2 separate regions of the Homo sapiens genome follow, and region 2 is linked to region 1. The links come from fine-mapping of genetic effects on gene expression. Tissue or cell type: transverse colon. Region 1 holds a variant in brackets; the other region holds the start of a gene. All regions are shown on one strand. Distances are from middle to middle.

Region 1 (8,108 bases):
CCATTTATATGATCACCAACTCTAAATTAGCAGAGTTTGAATTAATAAAGATTCTCTGAAGGTAGATTAGACACATTACCTCTCTGTCACTTTAAAGACTAGAGATGATTATAAAATGATAATGACAATTCACATTTTTTTGTTTTGTTTTCACATAGGAAATCATGTGCACATGCAGAGATCTTCCAGATTCAGACACTGCTGTAGGAATTTGTTTTTGCAGCCTATTGAGTATAAAAACATTTCCAGAAGATAAGAAACAATCAACTTCAGGTCCCCTATGACATCATTAATTATGAACGAGTACAATAAGCAAACTAGTGATAATATAATGAACATATTTTTTAAAGTGGAAAAAATTAAACCAATATGGCAAAAACTCTTCCTTTCATTACATTAATAATAGAAAATAGATTTCATAAAAAATACTATTTCATTTTAATTCACTCAAAATGATAAAAGGGGCTTGGTGCGGTGGCTCACGCCTGTAATCCCAGCACTTTGGACGCCTGAGGCAGGCAGATAGCTTAAGCCCAGGAGCTGGAGACCAGCACTGGCAACAAAGTGAGACCCCCATCTGTTTTAAAAATTAGCCCAGCATAGCAGCATGCACCTGCAGTCCCAGCTACTGGAAGGATGGGGGCGTGGCTGAGGCTGAGTTGGGAGGATCATTTGAGCCCCAGAATCAGAAGTTGCAGTGAGCTGATATTGCATCACTGCACTCCGTCCTGGGCAACAGAGCGAGACTCTGCCTCGAGATATATATATATATATATATATATATACACACATATATATACATATGTATATATATGTATATATATGTGTATATATATATATGTATATATGTATTTATCGTGATTAAACAAAACTCAAATGACAAATTGTCTTTCTAGCTCCACAAAGCCTTTTAAATACTTAATTGTGTTATATAGCTTTAAATTATTTTGTAAGTTATAAAAAGCTAATACAATTATCATTCATGCCTTTATATTTTGATGCTTTGAGGGGTTAACAAATTCTGAGTAAAAACATTCATTTAAGAAATCCAGGCTAGTTATGGTGGCTCACGCCTGTAATCTCAGCACTTTGGGAGTCCAAGGCTGGAGGATCACTTGAGTCCAGGAGTTGGAGATGAGCCTGGGCAACAGAGTAAGACCTCATCTCCACAAAAAAATAAACAAAATTAGTTGTTTTCTTCCTTTTAAAAATGTACGTTTTTTTCTACAGGATCCAACAAAGTGAAGAAACAATCTTTTATCATTTAAAAATGTAACCCATCCTGCATGTGAGATTTTGGGTGGTTTTTGTTTGTATGTTTAATATTTTAACTTTTAGTAAGTATATATACCATATTTATAGTTAGAACAAATGACACAGAATGATTTTTAATTGGCCCCAAAACATTTTTCTAGTTTGTCTTCATGGCAAAAAAAAAAAAAAAAAAAAAGTTAGTAGTCCAAAAAATTAAGCCTTGAAGTCATCATATCTACTATTATAATTAATCAAATAAGCAGTTCACATATAACAACTGTTTCTGGCTCAAAATTATACTTTTTTAAACAATTGTAATAACTAGCAATCCATGTATGGCTTTCTTTTCAAGCATTTCTGCACCATCTAAGTAGCTCATGAGCACTCTTGGTTTTTTCTCCATTCAAAGTAAGTCAAACATAAAACAAATCTACCTTGATTCACATACAAGGGCTTTGTGCCTAATGATATGGACATAATGAAACAGCTGGTACCATGTCTTTGATGAACCAAATAGAATGCAGCTAAGAAAATAAAAGTCAAGTTTCCAACTCTAAAGCACTTTTACTTTGTATAAACATAGCTCATTATTTCACATTATAAAATGTGAAAATATATCCAGTGTTGGCATAGCTTATAAAGTGCAAAAAACAAACAAACACAAAACCCAAAATAGCCTATGCTCTTCATTGTAGTGTCTTTTTAGTTTCATTGAACACATCAACTATTTCAAAATGCCTTTCTCAAGATTTTTAGGGGTTTTTTTTGGGGGGGGGCCTTGACATTGGCTTTAAACATTTTGGAACATGTTCATTTTCTTATTTGTGTTCACACAGAGGAATTCATATGAAATTAATGCCTACACTCTAATTCTAAATTTTAATGCCCAGTTGTTTAAAATAACATAATCTTAATAAATGCTCTATTTACTAATTATAATATAGTATTACATCCTATTAGACAGACATAAGTATGATTAGCAAACAATTATAAATGCTAACTACATTTATAATTATCTCATGTTAAACATTATAAAATATTATATACAATATTATATAATATGTTACTGCATAACATTATCAAACTTAATTATGATTATTTATACATATTTGGTTATGAGGAATAAAACTATAATCTAATGCCTTTTAAAACATAAACTAGCATTTCAATTTTTATTACTTTTTTAAAAAAATTATTATTCTACTTTAAGTTTTAGGGTACATGTGCATAATGTGCAGGTTAGTTACATAAGTATACATGTGCCATGCTGGTGCGCTGCACCCACTAACTCGTCATCTAGCATTAGGTATATCTCCCAATGCTATCCCTCCCCCCTCCCCCCACCCCACAACAGTCCCCAGAGTGTGATGTTCCCCTTCTTGTGTCCATGTGTTCTCATTGCTCAACTCCCACCTATGAGTGAGAATATGCGGTGTTTGGTTTTTTGTTCTTGCGATAGTTTACTGAGAATGATGATTTCCAATTTCATCCATGTCCCTACAAAGGACATGAATTCATCATTTTTTATGGCTGCATAGTATTCCATGGTGTATATGTGCCACATTTTCTTAATCCAGTCTATCATTGTTGGACATTTGGGTTGGTTCCAAGTCTTTGCTATTGTGAATAATGCTGCAATAAACATACGTGTGCATGTGTCTTTATAGCAGCATGATTTATAGTCCTTTGGGTATATACCCAGTAATGGGATGGCTGGGTCAAATGGTATTTCCAGTTCTAGATCCCTAAGGAATCGCCACACTGACTTCCACAATGGTTGAACTAGTTTACAGTCCCACCAACAGGGTAAAAGTGTTCCTATTTCTCCACATCCTCTCCAGCACCTGTTGTTTCCTGACTTTTTAATGATTGCCATTGTAACTGGTGTGAGATGGTATCTCATTGTGGTTTCGATTTGCATTTCTCTGATGGCTAGTGATGGTGAGCATTTTTTCATGTGTTTTCTGGCTGCATAAATGTCTTCTTTTGAGAAGTGTCTGTTCATGTCCTTCGCCCACTTTTTGATGGGGTTGTTTGTTTTTTTCTTGTTAATTTGTTTGAGTTCATTGTAGATTCTGGATATTAGCCCTTTGTCAGATGAGTAGGTTGCGAAAATTTTCTCCCATTTTGTAGGTTGCCTGTTCACTCTGATGGTAGTTTCTTTTGCTGTACAGAAGCTCTTTAGTTTAATTAGATACCATTTGTCAATTTTGGCTTTTGTTGCCATTGCTTTTGGTGTTTTAGACATGAAGTCCTTGCCCATGCCTATGTCCTGAATGGTATTGCCTAGGTTTTCTTCTAGGGTTTTTATGGTTTTAGGTCTAACGTTTAAGTCTTTATACCACCTTGAATTGATTTTTGTATAAGGTGTAAGGAAGGGATCCAGTTTTGGCTTTCTACATATGGCTAGCCAGTTTTCCCAGCACC[C/A]TTTATTAAATAGGGAATCCTTTCCCCATTGCTTGTTTTTGTCAGGTTTGTCAAAGATCAGATAGTTGTAGATATGCGGCGTTATTTCTGAGGGCTCTGTTCTGTTCCATTGATCTATATCTCTGTTTTGGTACCAGTACCATGCTGTTTTGGTTACTGTAGCCTTGTAGTATAGTTTGAAGTCAGGTAGTGTGATGCCTCTGGCTTTGTTCTTTTGGCTTAGGTTTGACTTGGCGATGCGGGCTCTTTTTTGGTTCCATATGAACTTTAAAGTAGTTTTTTCCAATTCTGTGAAGGAAGTCATTGGTAGCTTGATGGGGATGGCATTGAATCTGTAAATTACCTTGGGCAGTATGGCCATTTTCACGATATTGAATCTTCCTACCCATGAGCATGGAATGTTCTTCCATTTGTTTGTATCCTCTTTTATTTCGTTGATCAGTGGTTTGTAGTTCTCCTTGAAGAGGTCCTTCACATCCCTTGTAAGTTGGATTCCTAGGTATTTTATTCTCTTTGCAGCAATTGTGAATGGGAGTTCACTCATGATTTGGCTCTCTTTGTCTCTTGTTGGTGTATAAGAATGCTTGTGATTTTTGTACATTGATTTTGTATCCTGAGACTTTGCTGAAGGTGCTTATCAGCTTAAGGAGATTTTGGGCTCAGACAATGGGGTTTTCTAGATATACAATCATGTCATCTGCAAACAGGGACAATTTGACTTCCTCTTTTCCTAATTGAATACCCTTTATTCCCTTCTCCTGCCTGATTGCCCTGGCCAGAACTTCCAACACTATGTTGAATAGGAGTGGTGAGAGAGGGCATCCCTGTCTTGTGCCAGTTTTCAAAGGGAATGCTTCCAGTTTTTGCCCATTCAGTATGATATTGGCTGTGGGTTTGTCACAGATAGCTCTTATTATTTTGAAATACGTCCCATCAATACCTAATTTATTGAGAGTTTTTAGCATGAAGTGTTGTTGAATTTTGTCAAAGGCCTTTTCTGCATCTATTGAGATAATCATGTGGTTTTTGTCTTTGCTTCTGTTTATATGCTGGATTACATTTATTGATTTGCGTATATTGAACCAGCCTTGCATCCCAGGGATGAAGCCCACTTGATCATGGTGGATAAGCTTTTTGATGTGCTGCTGGATTTGGTTTGCCAGTATTTTATTGAGGATTTTTGCATCAATGTTCATCAGGGATATTGGTCTAAAATTCTCTTTTTTGGTTGTGTCTCTGCCAGGCTTTGATATCAGGATGATGCTGGCCTCATAAAATGAGTTAGGGAGGATTCCCTCTTTTTCTATTCATTGGAATAGTTTCAGAAGGAATGGTACCAGTTCCTCCTTGTGCCTCTGGTAGAATTCGGCTGTGAATCCATCTGGTCCTGGACTCTTTTTGGTTGGTAAGCTATTGATTATTGCCACAATTTCAGAGTCTGTTATTGGTCTATTCAGAGATTCAACTTCTTCCTGGTTTAGTCTTGGGAGAGTGTATGTGTCGAGGAATTTATCCATTTCTTCTAGATTTTCTCGTTTATTTGTGTAGAGGTGGTTGTAGTATTCTCTGATGGTAGTTTGTATTTCTGTGGGATCGGTGGTGATATCCCCTTTATCATTTTTATTGCATCTATTTGATTCTTCTCTCTTTTTTTCTTTATTAGTCTTGCTAGCGGTCTATCAATTTTGTTGATCCTTTCAAAAAACCAGCTCCTGGATTCATTAAGTTTTTTGAAGGGTTTTTTGTGTCTCTATTTCCTTCAGTTCTGCTCTGATTTTAGTTATTTCTTGCCTTCTGCTAGCTTTTGAATGTGTTTGCTCTTGCTTTTCTAGTTCATTTAATTGTGATGTTAGGGTGTCAATTTTAGATCTTTCCTGCTTTCTCTTGTGGGCATTTAGTGCTATAAATTTCCCTCTACACACTGCTTTGAATGTGTCCCAGAGATTCTGGTATGTTGTGTCTTTGTTTTCGTTGGTTTCAAAGAACATCTTTATTTCTGCCTTCATTTTGTTATGTACCCAGTAGTCATTCAGGAGCAGGTTGTTCAGTTTCCATGTAGTTGAGCGGTTTTGAGTGAGATTCTTAATCCTGAGTTCTAGTTTGATTGCACTGTGGTCTGAGAGATAGTTTGTTATAATTTCTGTTCTTTTACATTTGCTGAGGACAGCTTTACTTCCAAGTATGTGGTCAATTTTGGAATAGGTGTGGTGTGGTGCTGAAAAAAATGTATATTCTGTTGATTTGGGGTGGAGAGTTCTGTAGATGTCTATTAGGTCCGCTTGGTGCAGAGCTGAGTTCAATTCCTGAGTATCCTTTTTGACATTCTGTCTTGTTGTTCTGTCTAATGTTGACAGTGGGGTGTTAAAGTCTCCCATTATTATTGTGTGGGAGTCTAAGTCTCTTTGTAGGTCACTAAGGACTTGCTTTATGAATCTGGGTGCTCCTGTATTGGGTGCATATATATTTAGGATAGTTAGCTCTTCTTGTTGAATTGATCCCTTTACCATTATGTAATGGCCTTCTTTGTCTCTTTTGATCTTTGTTGGTTTAAAGTCTGTTTTATCAGAGACTAGGATTGCAACCCCTGCCTTTTTTTGTTTTCCATTTGCTTGGTAGATCTTCCTCCATCCTTTTATTTTGAGCCTATGTGTGTCTCTGCACGTGAGATGGGTTTCCTGAATACAGCACACTGATGGGTCTTGACTCTTTATCCAATTTGCCAGTCTGTGTCTTTTAATTGGAGCATTTAGTCCATTAACATTTAAAGTTAATATTGTTATGTGTGAATTTGATCCTGTCATTATGATGTTAGCTGGTTATTTTGCTCGTTTGTTGATGCAGTTTCTTCCTAGTCTCAATGGTCTTTACATTTTGGCATGATTTTGCAGTGGCTCGTACCGGTTGTTCCTTTCCATGTTTAGCGCTTCCTTCAGGAGCTCTTTTAGGGCAGGCCTGGTGGTCATAAAAATCTCTCAGCATTTGCTTGTCTGTAAAGTATTTTATTTCTCCTTCACTTATGAAGCATAGTTTGGCTGGATATGAAATTCTGGGTTGAAAATTCTTTTCTTTAAGAATGTTGAATATTGGCCCCCACTCTCTTCTGGCTTGTAGCGTTTCTGCCAAGAGATCCGCTGTTAGTTTGATGGGCTTCCCTTTGAGGGTAACCCGACCTTTCTCTCTGGCTGCCCTTAACATTTTTTCCTTCATTTCAACTTTGGTGAATCTGACAATTATGTGTCTTGGAGTTGCTTTTGTCGAGGAGTATCTTTGTGGCGTTCTCTGTATTTCCTGAATCTGAACGTTGGCCTGCCTTGCTAGATTGGGGAAGTTCTCCTGGATAATATCCTGCAGAGTGTTTTCCAACTTGGTTCCATTCTCCCCGTCACTTTCAGGTACACCAATCAGACGTAGATTTGGTCTTTTCACATAGTCCCATATTTCTTGGTGGCTTTGCTCGTTTCTTTTTATTCTTTTTTCTCTAAACTTCCCTTCTTGCTTCATTTCACTCATTTCATCTTCCATCACTGATACCTTTCTTCCAGTTGATCGCATCGGCTCCTGAGGCTTCTGCATTCTTCATGTAGTTCTCGAGCCTTGGTTTTCAGCTCCATCAGCTCCTTTAAGCACTTCTCTGTATTGGTTATTCTAGTTATACATTCTTCTAAATTTTTTTCAAAGTTTTCAACTTCTATGCCTTTGGTTTGAATGTCCTCCCATAGCTCAGAGTAATTTGGTCGTCTGAAGCCTTCTTCTCTCAGCTCATCAAAGTCATTCTCCGTCCAGCTTTGTTCCATTGCTGGTGAGGAACTGCGTTCCTTTGGAGGAGGAGAGGTGCTCTGCTTTTTAGAGTTTCAAGTTTTTCTGCTCTGTTTTTTCCCCATCTTTGTGGTTTAATCTACTTTTGTTCTTTGATGATGGTGATGTACAGATGGGTTTCTGGTGTGGATGTCCTTTCTGTTTGTTAGTTTTCCTTCTAACAGACAGGACCCTCAGCTGCAGGTCTGTTGGAGTACCCTGCCATGTGAGGTGTCAGTCTGCCCCTGCTGGGGGGGCTTCCCAGTTAGGCTGCTCAGGGGTCAGTGTCAGGGACCCATTTGAGGAGGCAGTCTGCCCGTTCTCAGATCTCCAGCTCCGTGCTGGGGGAACTACTGCTCTCTTCAAAGCTGTCAGACAGGGACATTTAAGTCTGCAGAGGTTACTGCTGTCTTTTTGTTTGTCTGTGCCCTGCCCCCAGAGGTGGAGCCTACAGAGGAAGGCAGGCCTCCTTGAGCTATGGTGGGCTCCACCCAGTTCGAGCTTCTGGGCTGCTTTGTTTACCTAAGCAAGCCTGGGCAATGGCGGGCGCCCCTCCCGCAGCCTCACTGCCGCCTTGCAGTTTGTTCTCAGACTGCTGTGCTAGCAATCAGGGAGACTCCATGGGCCTAGGA
Region 2 (8,108 bases), 620 kb after region 1:
GAGGTACAAAATAAATAAAATCGGACAATCCAGCATTAGGGCATTCTTCATGACAACTGCTTGGTATCTTAAATTTGTTTAAAAAGACAGTTATTATTGGGAAAAATGAATTAGATTAAAAGCTTTAGATTAAAAGAAGCCAAAGAAAGTTAAAGCCCAACTTCAATGGGCAATCATTCATAGGATCCTGGTTCAAAAACAAACTATTTACAAAAGGTATTCTGGAGACAACTGGACAACTGGAGAAATGTAAATATTCTCTGGACCTTAAATAATAGTAGCGAATAATTGTTAATTTTCATTGATGTGATAAAGGTTTTATAGGAAATGGTTATATAGGAAAATGTCCTTGTAGGAGACATATAGCTAAAGTATTCTGAACTGAAGTGTCTTATCTACAACCTACAGATCTGAGAAAAATAAAACCAACAACCAAAACACACACACATAGGTACACATATAAATATATAAATAAATATGGAAAAATATTTGAATCTAGGTGATAATGATATTGAGAAGAAATTACTCAGGCCGATAGTACGAGTATGGGAGTCCTCAGTGTAAAAAGTGAAGTAGAGGTTCCTCTTCAAATGGACTTTCCTTTCCGTCTAATTAGGAATAAACAGTAACTTCTCTTAAAAGCAAAATTTATTCAAAGAACTGTGCTAACATATTGGAGGCCGAAACAATGAGGTTCGTGATCAACTCAGTATATCACTGGAGGCTATATGAGTAAGCAGCAAACTGTTTCTCATAAATGCAGAACGTTGGCGAACTGACAAACTGCGTATGCCACCCAGGAGGACTGCTGAGGGTAGTTACGATCTAGGCACAAATGTTTCTTATGATTAGGCATAATTGAAGCCTGTCAGTAACAATATGAACCTGTGATCAATTAAGCAGCTGACCAATCGTTACCACCTCCTCCCTGCTCCTGTTACCCAAAAAATAGGAAGGGCTGTGGAAGCTCTGTGGCTGCCTTTGCTCACGAGAAGCAGGGAGCTCTCTTCTTCTTCCCCTGGCCCTTTCCTTAAAACAGTTCCTTTTGTCTTAAGTTATCATTTCTACGTTCGTCCCTTCATTTGATCTCACAATGATGGTCTCAAGCAGTAACAGTAGTAACTGCTGTAACGATGGTCTCAAGTAGTAACCGTGGCAGTTGGCCACACTAACATTCTTTGATATCTGTTGGCCGTAATAAAGAAATCAATGTACTTTGTGCTCTTAGCTGCCACATTTTAGCCTAGATATTTGCCCTGGCATGCTTATACTGGTCCAAGGAAGCATTAGGCCATAGCCTGTTTTCTTCCTTATCTGGAGGTGTTTTTACCTTTCTCAGCATTCCACAAGTTGCTTCCTCCTTCCTTTGTTCTCCTCTGTCTTTGCCTCTTTTGGAAAGTTCTAAGTTGCTAGCCAATCAGGACAAGTACAGAGGTCCCCTTCCAGCCAATGGAAACCGGACACGGTAGTAGGGTGCACGTGTCAGGTTATAAATGACCCTGTCTCCTTTATGCGTGTGTGCTCTCGTGGCAAGACTACTAGCGAGCGGCAACCTTTCTGCAGAAAGTAAACTAGCCTTGCTAAGAGCTCCTTTGTCTCAGTGTTGATTTTTGCAACACTGAGCGCCCGTTCCCAACATCAGTAAGGCTTTTCTTTTTAATGAAAAGCAGCCCCAAATCCTTTTCTAAGAGCAGCCTGTGAAGTCGAGCTGCAGGCACAGACAAACAAGGGGGTAGCTTGCTTGGGTGAATGGTGGCAGGAACTACCGACTAGACATGTTTAAGATGAGGGCTCCATCTTCGCTTCTCTGCCAGCCACGTGTACAGTAAGAAGGGGTTACAATAGGCATATGGGTGATTTTGTGCTTTTCGTTCATCTTTTCTGTGTTTAAAATGTTCAGAATAAGAAATTGGAACAAAGGAGACATGAATAGACAATTCCTAATCATCTTTAAGAGTCCGCTTTGTGTTTTACTTACCACCACCACTTTGAAGGCTTTCTTGCCTATACCAGGACAAACTCAGCTCTTTATCCCTTTTCCGAATTTTCCTGGTACTTTCACTTTGAATATAGCGCTTAATTAACATTCTGCCTTGTACCTAGGACTAACACACTATAAATTCCCAGAAGACAAAGTAGGGGAATACAATAACAGGATATAGAATTTTAACAGCTAAATTAGATGAATTTATGGGTGACCTTTATTGGGCAAAAGAAAATGTTAAGTTAGTATAAGATTTAGTATAAGCTACCATCTCAAAACTCAGGGTCTCACTGGAAGAGAAAGTGACTCCAGGTAGAATTCCTCAGGGAGACATTCACTTCCATCATTCGCTGAACCAGGAGCTTTGGACAGCCTCGGATTGCACCCGCATATCCAAGGACACCACATCAGCGGACAAGTCATAAACAGCCTTGGGAATACGCGGAAAGGTCAAATTTACCTAAACAATTAAATTCTCTTTTAAATTTTAAGGAAACACAAGTATGCTTTCGCTTTAGGTAGGGCATTTGAGAGCAAAATGTACTAATACTTTGAATCCGCCAAGCAGACACGATCTGGGTTTGACCGTTCTCTCCGGGTAAAGGTGAAGGCTGACCACGGGGGCCGCTCTCCCTCCAGGCCCCAGCCACGCCCTCTAACCCAGGTTCCCGTCCTGCACCGCGCCGCAAGTCCCCCCACCGTTCAGCGCAACCGGGCCCTCCCAGCCCCGCCGCCGTCCCCCTCCCCCGCCCTGGCTCTCTTTCCGCGCTGCGGTCAGCCTCGGCGTCCCACAGAGAGGGCCAGAGGTGGAAACGCAGAAAACCAAACCAGGACTATCAGAGATTGCCCGGAGAGGGGATGCGACCCCTCCCCAGGTCGCAGCGACGGCGCACGCAAGGGTCACGGAGCATGCGTTGGCTACCCGGCGCCGGGGACCGCTGCCACCCCGCCTAGCGCAGCGCCCCGTCCTTCCGCAGCCCAACCGCCTCTTCCCGCCCCGCCCCATCCCGCCCACGGGCTCCAGTGGGCGGGACCAGAGGAGTCCCGCGTTCGGGGAGTATGTCAAGGCCGTGACCCGTGTATTATTGTCCGAGTGGCCGGAACGGGAGCCAACATGGCAGCGGGGTTCGGGCGATGCTGCAGGGTGAGAGGGAGCCCAGCGGTGCGGTGGGGCTGGAACATGGGTATTGTGGTGTCGGAGCAGGGGGCCCTGGGCCAAAAATAGGTGCGGCCGGGAGGAGTGGGAAGTCGGGCTGAGGAAGGAGCCAGCCTAGGGGCCCCCAACCTGCTTTCACGCCTCCTACCACCGGACGGAACGTAGCCTAGCGTTTCATTTTCCGTATCCTCCCGTCAGGCGACCCCGTTATAGCCGGCATCCTCTCTTTAGAATATCGTTTTTCTTTCTCTGGTAAACCCTCCAAATATTTACCGCGGGAATCCCACCTTTTTCCAAAGTGACCCCGTCTCTGTGTCAGAACCACGGGAAAAAGAAAAATGGAGCAGCTACTCCTTGAAATACTTAATGTTTAATAAGCTTTTCGTTGTAACGTTTCCACGTTGCTTACGGGAAAAAAAAAAGTAAAAAAAAAACCTGCAGAATTTTATGTGAACTTGTGTGTATATTCTAGTATTGGATCTTAATAGATTCTAAATAAGTTTGTCACTAGATGAATTTTGGTATCTTAAATATTCTTGATATGTTCACACCACTGCCATTTAGATGTCACTTAAAATTAAGTTAAAGTTATGTCTTGGACCAAAAAAGCTGCGGTTTTAGAATAATCCTAAAGAATTGCTGCCCATGTTTTGCTGGTGTTATGCAAGTTAATGTGCAGTGAAGGCAGAAATTGGGAGATTTCAGCTATTTTTAACTCCTACACCAGAAAAGCAGATTTCTCAACCTCCAAGGAAGGATCTAAAAAAAACCTGATATAGAAAACTTACACCCTTTTTCTCTTCTTTAACCCATAAAACTGACACTCTTATATTCCCAAGAAATGCACAAAAGTGTTCAATTCTAGTGGTGCTGTTTCGATATTTGGAATTTCATTGTTCTAGACAGAGAGCCCGAAGTAATAAAACCAATAGTTATATAGCATTAGGCTTTCAAAACATTATCGTACTTTAATCGTCCGAAAATACGCAGTGAGATTAGTCCCATTTTTTGGTTTTGAACGGAAGCTATAAGCAGTTTGTAAACCTGTCTACGGCCACAAATATGGTTGTGGAACCTAGATTCACATTCAGCAATTATAACTCCAGATCCCGTGCTGTTTCTGTTTTCTATTTGCAAACCACCTCTCTAATTAACTGGCTAACTTTGTTATGTAATTAACAGGTTGATGGGCATTGTATTCTGGTAATAGCAACCTTTGCACTTTGTTCTATGTAACATATTTTCCTGAACAGTCACATGTGAAGTGACTTTTTCCCTATTTAAATTCCCTCGGTTGGCCAGGTGCGGCGGCTCACGGTTGTGATCCTAGCACCTTGGGAGGCCTCGGCGGGTTGATCACTTAAGGCCAGGAGTTCGAGACCAGCCTGGCCAAAGCAGGGAAACCCTGTCTTTACTAAAAATAGGAAAAATTAGCTGGGCATGGTAGCATATGCCTGTAATCCCAGGAGGCTGAGTCTGCAGTGAGCGGAGATCTCTCCACCGCACTCTAGCCTGGGTGACAGAGGGAGACTCTGTCAAAAAAAAAAAAAAGTCCCTCAGTAGACCATTTAACCTGGTTTGAGTTCTGACTTTTGTGCATGGTATTTAAAAACGCATTTATAATAGAGTCAGGTTTTTTGTTCTGATTTTTGTGGAATGTTTTCCTTTGTTATGGAACCTAGTGACCAATTAGGATACTAACAGAAAGATCAGTATAGCAAGGTGGTTAATAGCATGCGCTCTTGATAGTAAATGTTAGAATCCTGGTTGCACTAATAGTAGAGTGACTTTGCCTAATTTAGTTGACTTTCTGAGCCTTCGTTTCTTCACATGCGAAAGTGGAATAAAAGTAATGGCTTAATCCTAGACTTGACCTGGGATTCAGTGAATTAACCTGTGTAACGCGACTGTAAATCAGAGTAGATTTGGTCTGTGACTGCTGGACAATAAGCACCAGAGAAACTGTTTCACTTTTTTTTTTTTTTTTTTTTTTGAGACGGAGTCTTGCTCTGTCACCCAGGCTGGAATGCAATGGTGCAGTCTAGGCTCACTGCAACCTCCGCCTTCCGGGTTCAAGCGATTCTCCTGCCTCAGCGTCCCGAGTAGCTGGGACTACAGGTGCGTGCCACCACACCTGGCTAATTTTTGTATTTTTAGTAGAAATGGGGTTTCACCATGTTGGTCAGGCTGGTCTCAAACCCCTGACCTCGTGATCCGCCCACCTCAGCCTCCCAAAGTGCTGGGATTACACGCATGAGCCACCCCACCTGGCACTGTTTCACTTTCAAAATAAAATTAATGAAGATGCAAAGAAAATGCGAGTTTTCATACTCTGTATGTTTTTATTACTGTAGTATGAGGTATGTTATTTGGAAAGCACTGTTTCAATTACAAATATTTGACACTCTTAATTATATTGTCACCTTACATGTAGGAATTCGTCTTTTATAAGTTGAAATTGTCATCTACAAAGACAGTTTCTTTTTACGGATTTTGAAAAACATAAGAATTTAAATAAAGAAACTTTAGTATATTCTTCAGCTGCTCTTTTCTCTTAGTATCTAAGCTTGTTAAAATTGCTGGATAGTTCAATTAAAATCTTTTACAGTGAAAATTGTGTAATTTTGACTGTCCTGAAACCTTTACTCAAGAACACCATTGTGGTTCCCAGTTTGGCAGCTTTAATAAATGCAAATTTTTACTTTTGTATCCATTAAACTGTCATGAATATAAAAATGGGTTGCAAAACAATAATATATGTATATTTGATTGTTTGTTTCTTTATATGTTCCTTTGAAGAAATATGACTATATTTCAGATCCTAAGACAAGTAGTGTATTAGTAGTTTAGAAGAGGGATGGCAAACGTGTTTGTAAAGGAACGGATAGTACATGTTTTTGGCTTTGTGAACCAGATGGTCTCTGTGGTAACTACTTAGATCTGCTGTGAAAGCGGCAATAGACAGCATGATGTGGCTGCACTGGTTTGGTGACTCCTTGCTCAGAACATTGTAAGAATCCCTGTAGACAGCAGAAAATACAGAACATGGTTTTATGCTAATTTGTTTTGTTAGAGTGGGGTATCCTAAAAAATGAGATCCTCTGAGGGGAAGGTTTCCAGAGGCATGCATGGGAGGCTCACAGTGACAGGGTATCAAAGTTGATGGACTAGGCAACTCTTGAACACAGTATGTTCACTTCCAGCCTATCGTTCTCCCCACCCCAACTCTCCAACCATTAATGTCCTAGGAGCTTGTAAGATACCCAGAATAGTGGTCCTACATCTACTACTACCCTTGACTGTTGTTTGTCCTAAACCCTCCACTTCAGTAGTATAAATACCACTGACTTTATTTTCATTACTTTTTAAAAACATCTCCTCTGTAATAGGAATTTATATAACTGATAATTGGCTTATTTAAATTATGATTGAAGGCATTTAAATAGTGATGACTTTAAAAACTATGAGTATGGTCAAACCAGTTGCTGTACTCACTTATGATTATCAGTAGTCTCTTATCTGATTAATGTTTAACTTATCAAATTTATTTTAATAAAAGTGTTCTTTACAGGTCCTGAGAAGTATTTCTCGTTTTCATTGGAGATCACAGCATACAAAAGCCAATCGACAACGTGAACCAGGATTAGGATTTAGTTTTGGTATATGTTCGGTTCTATCTTTTGACTTTAAACTTATACATATGAAGCTTTATATGTTTTGTTTGGAATATGTTTGTAAATAAACTTAATAATGTCTTTCAATGAGTAGAACCAGTCCACTGTCCACAGATAATTTACAATAACTCACACTCCATTCTTCCTGATCTCATTTTCTTCCTCAGTATACTACACTGTACATTAGATCTGTTTTAGCAGCATACATACACTTAAATTCCTTCCTTTTTTTCTGAGTGTTTAGCCCAAAATAAATGAGATTTACTGATATATATGAATAGTCTTCAACTTACATATCTGAATGCCACAAATACATTTTAAAAACACTTGTTAGATTACAATTCTAGGTGCCTGGTAATAAGCTAAAGCTTGTTTTTGCTATAATATATCCAAATTGCAATTTTGGTACTATTAGATGAAGTTCTCACTCCTGGGACCAGGGAGCCATGATTTTTTTTCCTCTGCCCTCTATAAAATGAAAACTACACACAAAAAATTTGAAATAATATCTATCTTTGGCATTCTTGGCCTTCTAAAGTGCTTCTTCAAAATTTTTATTTTTTCTCTAGTTAAAAACCATTTACTCAATTTATTTGGTCTCAGAAAATAGTTAAAGGCAGCTGCGATAACTCACAGCTAGGTACAAATGACAATCTCAAAGCTCTCCAGAGTTATTTTTTTTATTATTTGTTGTGTTTTTTAAAGATTTTTCCCTTTTCTTTATAAAGGTTTTTTTTTTTCTTACCAGAATTTAATGAAATTTTTCTTTTCTTTTTCTTTCTTTCTTTTTTCTTTTTTTTTTTTTTTTTAAGATGAGGTTTCATTGTCTCATTATGTTGCCCAGGCCGATCTTGAACTCCTAGGCTCAAGCAGTCCTCTTATTTCAGCCTCCCAAAGTGCTGGGATTATAGGCATGAGCTACTGCACCCAGACCAAATGAAAAGTTTCTGTGTTTTTTTTTTTTTTCCTGTGACTTCTAGCCAAAGACTGGATGAAAATTTTCTCTTTTCTTTTTTTTGAGACAGAGTCTCACTCTGTCACCCAGGCTGGTGTGCAAGTGGCTCACTGCAACCTCTACCTCCCAGGATCAAGCGATTCTCCTGCCCCAGCCTCCTGAGTAGCTGGGACTACAGGTGTGGGTCATCATGCCTGGCTAATTTCTATATTTTTAGTAGGGATGGGGTTTTGCCACGTTGGCCAGGCTGGTCTCGAACAGCTGAAGACAAGTGATCCACCCACCTCTGCCTCCCAAAGTGCTGGGATTACAGGCATGAACCACTGTGCCCAACCTAAA

The links. PIP is the estimated chance that this variant, and not a neighbour inherited with it, causes the effect.
Region 2: ACADM starts here. The variant in region 1 is fine-mapped to the expression of ACADM in transverse colon (GTEx, PIP 0.96).

Annotation. Positions count from the first base shown.
Region 1 is chr1:75,104,421-75,112,528 of GRCh38, forward strand. No RefSeq gene overlaps it. Among named protein-coding and RNA genes, the nearest start is that of LHX8-AS1, 24 kb to the right of the region's middle. The variant C/A (reference allele first, on the strand shown) is at 3,682.
Region 2 is chr1:75,721,690-75,729,797 of GRCh38, forward strand. It overlaps ACADM (acyl-CoA dehydrogenase medium chain), which reads left to right and starts at 3,020. Exons shown (of 12, transcript NM_000016.6): 1 at 3,020-3,128; 2 at 6,712-6,799. The coding sequence starts at 3,099. It also overlaps a transcript of SLC44A5 not described here. RefSeq lists enhancers at 2,406-2,495, 3,146-3,235 and silencers at 2,866-2,915, 2,966-3,015.